Linked DNA regions of Homo sapiens: region 1 is linked to region 2. The links come from fine-mapping of genetic effects on gene expression. A gene starts in region 2. The other region holds a variant in brackets. All regions are shown on one strand. Distances are between the middles of the regions.

Evidence for each region. PIP is the estimated chance that this variant, and not a neighbour inherited with it, causes the effect.
Region 1: its variant is the best candidate, but not a certain one, in a credible set for the expression of SLC35C1 in prefrontal cortex (ROSMAP, PIP 0.65).

The regions. Positions count from the first base shown.
Region 1 is chr11:45,743,527-45,746,429 of GRCh38, reverse strand. No RefSeq gene overlaps it. Among named protein-coding and RNA genes, the nearest start is that of LINC02690, 6.6 kb to the left of the region's middle. RefSeq lists enhancers at 1,297-1,796, 1,797-2,298, 2,435-2,903. The variant C/T (reference allele first, on the strand shown) is at 1,797.
Region 2 is chr11:45,804,120-45,806,951 of GRCh38, reverse strand. It overlaps SLC35C1 (solute carrier family 35 member C1), which reads right to left and starts at 1,803. Exons shown (of 2, transcript NM_018389.5): 1 at 616-1,803. The coding sequence starts at 1,150. RefSeq lists silencers at 1,549-1,778, 2,509-2,678.

The DNA.
Region 1 (2,903 bases), 61 kb after region 2:
AACAAGGTGAAAGGATAGGAAACAGGAGACTTCCATTTTCAATTGTAAGCTTTTTGGGGCACTATTTGGTTTTTCAGATTTATAGGTAATACTTTGATGAAAATAAAAACAAATTTAGACAAATAGGTTTGGCTCATATTCTCTCCTCTATGAAGGAAGATGCCCCCCCACCACCCTGCTGTCCTGAGCCTTCTCTCTCTGTGACAACTTGAGCACAGGGCTTGTGTCCCCAGCACTGACACATGGCCCTATTCTTCATTTACTCAAAGACTAAGTGAGTGAATTTTTTTTTTAAAATAAAGTTTGTCAAGTTCAGGATAATTTAAAAAACAACAAAACCCAACTTTTGAAGAGGTCAAACTGGGAAAGTTATGCTGCACTCACATCAAGGGGCACTTGTCTTTTACTGGCTGTTACAGGTGATAATGACACTTATTTATTTATTTATTCATTTTTTTATTTTTGAGGGTCCAGTGTGTTTGGGTGAGGTTCCAGGCCGGATGGGAACACGGTGGGGTTAGAGGCAGATATACCTGGGCTCCAAGGTTATCTCTGCCACTTACGAACTGTGGGTTTGAGGCAACTTACCCTGAACCTGTGTTTCCTTATCTCCACTGTGGGGATAGTAACAGAAAAAATACTTCGTAGTCTTGTTCAGGATGAGAAAAATGTCGGTGAAGTGCCTAGCCCATAGTAGGTGCTGGTTAAACAGGATCATTTTCTTAAGCTGCAGTATATTCAGTGACAGCAGCTCTTCCCTTGACCCCACTTCCTGAATTCCTGTCCTTATGGAACTTTCTGGGAAGCTCTGGCCTTTGTCTCTGACACCACTGGGCCCTGGGCTCTGTGTGGACACACTGCATATTAGCACAGTGGCTCATGGCACCTACACCATTTCAGAGACATCCGAATAATTCCATTTTGGGATTTGTGCTGAGATGGTTTCAGTGGCTTTGCTTGGTTTCTAAACAAAAGTTATTTAGGTGGGAACAGATTCAACTTGAGGTTTTCGTGATTTTCACACGACCTTTAAATACCCCTGATTTGCAGTTTCCTTCTTTCTCTAATGAAAAACTGGATCGTCTTGTTAAAAAGAAACTTAATGTGATGCTGTTGGCCTGCAAATCTCCTAGCCTCCCTCTCTCCGTTTCATTGGCTCCCACCCTCTCCTGTCTCCCTTGGCTGCTCCACCCACCCTCTACCCCGGCAGTCCTCAGCTGGCCTCCATCCACTGCTCCCTCCGTGGGAACGGCTCGCTCAGAATTCACCAAGGCCTTCCCGGTAGCCACATCCAGAGATTTTGTGCAACTTCCTTCTTCAGGCTGAATTTAACCCCTCTTCTTGAAATGTTCTCGTTCTCTGGCTTTGGGACACAAAAGAAGCCTACTTACTTGTTCCCTAAAGTTCAGTCCTTGCTTTTTTTTTTTTTTTTTTTTTTTTTTTTTACGTTATTGCTTTATTCTTTACGCCTTTAATGATCACCTCTATGTGGATTATTTTCTTAGCTCTCTTCCCATTTCAAGTGTCTTCCTGGAGTCTTACTCTTGAGTCCTGATGGACTACTGGCCATTTTCCCTGAGGCATCTTGAAGGTACCTCACCTCTAAGACAGATCCAACCATCTGTCCTGGCCCTCTGCCTTTACTCCCTCCCTTAATCCATGGCACTTGAAACCCTGGAGTCTTCTTCCCTTCATTACCACCCTCCCTTCAGCATTTTTTTTTTTTGAGACAGCGTCTCGCTTTGTTGCCCAGGCTGGAGTGCAGTGGCGCGATCTCAGCTCACTGCAAGCTCTGC[C/T]TCCCAGGTTCACGTCATTCTCCTGCCTCAGCCTCCCCAGTACTCAGCCTCCCCAGTAGCTGGGACTACAGGCGCCTGCCACCACGCCTGGCTAATTTTTGTATTTTTAGTAGAGACGGGGTTTCACCTTGTTAGCCAGGATGGTCTCGATCTCCTGACCTCGTGATCCACCCACCTTGGCCTCCCAAAGTGCTAGGATTACAGGCGTGAGCCACTGTGCCCGGCCTCCCTTCAGCTTTTACATCATGAACCAGTCCACATCCTCTGATCTAATCAGAGTGGCCTCCGCACTGTCCCCAAACATGCAGTCACTCCTGTGTTATGCCTGGAATATCTGGGAGGGCACACTTTCACAGTCACATTTTTCAAAAAGAGAGCCTTTGTGTTAACCCATGTATATATTTGCTCAGAGACCAAGGATCGTGCAAAACATCCTTTGTCCCATCAGTCTCCCAAAGCCGGGCCACAGACTGTGTGTATGGCCTCATCGCCGTGCAGAGGACTTGTCCTTCTTCTTGGGGTCAACTTGACCAAAGGTGTGTGCAGGGGGAGATGGTACTTCTAGGTTCACAGTTCAGCCCTCTCCTCAGAGTCTTGGCTCCACCCTGCAGAGGAGACGTTAGAGCCTTCAGAATTTAAATTCTCCAGATTCTTAGAGCATGTCTAAAACAAATCAACTATTCTCTTGCTCCTTGATGCATTATTATGCTAATAAAGTCGCTGTCTTTTTACTTAATCTTGCCAAGGAGACTTTCTCCTCAAGGATGGGGAGGGGAGGCACATTCCATCCCGCCATGCATCTCATACTCTTCCCCACCTGTATCTTGGTTTATGCTGTTCTGGTCATCTATTTGGGATGTATACTTCCCTCCCATCGCTGTAATAACAATCTACCTATTCTCCAAGGCAGGGAGATCTTAACCACTTTTGTGCCATGGGCACCATTTAATGGTCTGATAAAGCCTATTAGGCCTGTCTTCCAAAAAATGATTTGAAAGATATAAAATACACAGGATTATAAAAGAAACTGAAAACAGTTACTAAAGTATTCAAAAAACCAAATTTATGATATAAGAATACTTTCCTTTATTAACATAAAAAAACACA
Region 2 (2,832 bases):
CTCTCAAAGCATATTGCTTGCTACTGTCTCAGGCGCTATCCTGAGCTGGCAGAGAGTGATGGTATATTTATTAAAAGACGTATTGTCCTCTACTAAGAGCACTGGCTGGGAAATCAGGACACCTGAGCTCTTGAGAAACAATAAAGTACAGTGGTCGGGCATGTGAACTGTGAAGCCAGATTGCTTGAGTTCAGATCCCAGCTCTGCCACTTATTAGCTGGGTGATCTTGGACAAGTTAGTTAACTTCTCTGTGCCTTGGTTTTTCCCTCTGTAAAATGTGGATTATAATCCCATCTTGTTATGAAGATTAGCTGAGTTAATATGGCTAAGATCCATGTGCCTGGCACATTTTAATCACTCAACAAATGTCAGTTGCTTTTGCTGCTGTTGTTACTATTATTATTACTATTGTTCTTGCCCCGGCTGGGCTCCTAACTTGCTGGGTGACCTTTAGTAAGTTACTTGCTCTCTCTGTGCCCCCAGGCTCTTTCTCCTATGACTGCTGCACCAAAGGAGCTGGGACAGATGAAGTCCTAGGATGCCTAGAAGAGTTGTTCTTCACTGCTTCAGTCCCCATGACCACTCTATCCCCCGTGGCCCCAGCTGCCACTCACCGATGATGATACCGCAGGTGAGCAGGGCATAGAAGGAGGTGGTCTGCTTGAGCAGCAGGTAGGAGAGCAGCACGTTGAAGACGGTGGTGAGTGAGCGGCCCACATTGTAGAAGGCCACACCGACGTACTTGAGGCAGAGGTTATTGAAGGTGATCATGCCGATGAAGACCACCGACAGGGGCAGGACGCTGCGGGCCACCCTGAGGTCCAGGCGCAAGCTGGGGAAGTCCACGGCACCAGGGCAGCAGGCGGCCAGAGCGCTGAGGCCTTTGCACAGCAGCGTGGTCACCAGGCACTGGTAGAAGGTGACGAAGATGGGGGTGTCCAGCCGCAGGGAGGGGCTGTCCAGCAGGTACTTATTAAGGAACACCATGGAGATGGAGGTGACCCAGTAGAGGGAGACCACCAGCGCGATCTGCAATGCCCGCAGCAGAAAGGGCTTCTCCCCGTTGGCCTCTGCCTCTGCAGAGGGGTCTGAGGCCCCGGTCAGCGCCATGTGCAGGATCCTGGACCGCTTCAGAGGGGCCCTATTCATGGTAGCAGAGGAGCTGGGTCACCCCGCGGCCAGAACTCTGATTCCCTGGAGTCCAGGGCAGTGAGCTCACTTGTGCTCTCCGCAAGGAAGCCGCAGCCCTCCATTGTCACATGTGGGCTGGCCTAAAGGCCTCCCCATTGTCCTCATGGATTGAGAAGTTCTGCTTTGGGGTGAGCCCAGTTGTGCTGCTCCACAACCTACTCCCACCCCGAGGGGGCTCTGAGACAAGACACAGGGCAAGGGAGAGGAATAGGATAAGGCGGTGAGGCCAGGACAGAGAAGACCTGTGAGGGGAGAAGAGGCTGGGGCCTAACAGGGAGGGGTCGCAGAGAGAAGGGAGGGGAGAGGAATGGCAGGGCGGGGCAGGAGTAGGTACGCGGGGCGAAGGTGCAGGAAAAGGACGCGTGGCAGAGTGGGAAGAGGTGCCGAGAGGGCGTCATGGGCGGCTGTGGGAGGGAGGGGCGGGCAGGGGGAGGGAGGCGTACAGGGAGCTGCCGGAGGCCGGGCGCGGCTGGAGGGAGGGCTGCGGAAGGGTCAGAGGGGCTCGGGGCTTGGGGCTGAAGGACGCGGGAGGGGGCTGGGCCGGCGCCCACGTCTCGCTGCCTTCCCGGGCTCTGTCGCCGGCTCAGCCCAGGAGCCTCCGGACATCCGAGGCCGACTCCCCGGGAGGCGGGCCCTGGACTCACTTCCTGACACGCCCCCACGTGGCCTTAAAGGGCCCGCACGCCCCGCCTTGCCCTTAAAGCGACAGCCCCAGAGAGGCGGAGTTCGCCAGTCCCCAGCCCCGCCCCTGCGCTCCGCTGCCCGCTGCTGGCGGGGGACCTCGGCAGCCACAGGTTTTTCTGGGTGCTTGAGCCTCGCCCTGCTTCCTGGAAGGGCTCCATCAACCTCGCCTGCCCACCCTCAGCTCCGTCCGCCCCGGAGCCTCCGTCCCCCGACTTGGCTAGGCTTGGCTCGCAGGTCCACTTCCCGGAACCCCGACCCAGGACCCGGGCGGCGCTACATCAGCCTGGACCCCTCCACCTCCGGAGACTCGCGTTGCAGCCCCGCGTCCCTCTGCCAATCCGAGCTCACTCTTCCATAACAATGTTGTGGTCCCCTCCTTTCCCCCCATTTTCACCGCCCCCAGGCCCTCTCCCAAGCCCGAGACCCCCGGCAGCGCTCCCCGAGGCCGGAGGCCACGCCGCCTCTCTCGGACTTCAGTTTGTCCTCCCTGTGCTCCTGTCGAGGTCCTCTGGGCGGCCCGGATCCGAGATTCCAAAGGCTCAAGACAGCATCTCTTACCCCTTCCAGAAAATACTGTTTCCCCGGCCGGTCCAGCCGCATCAGCTCCCGCGTCCCTGCCTGTGTCCCCGGGCCGCGAAGGCGACCTGGCGCTCACCTCCTCCGGTGCACTGGGCGCCCGCCCCGCGACCCCGTGCTGCATCTGCAGCGCCGCACCCTGGGCCGCGCCCGCGGGATCGACTTCCTGCTTTCCGCCCCGGGCCCGGGCACCTTGCCAGCCTCGCCGGCCTGTTCGCGGCATGGGCCCCGGGGGTGCCGGCGGAGAGGCGGTGATCCGGACGGTCGTGGGAGGAGGCCCTCTCCTCTTTCCAAGGCTACTCCTGTCCCTGGTACCCCCGCCCGCCCGGGACCCGGCTTCAGTTACCGCAGCTGGCACGTCCCGGGACTTGGCTGTATCC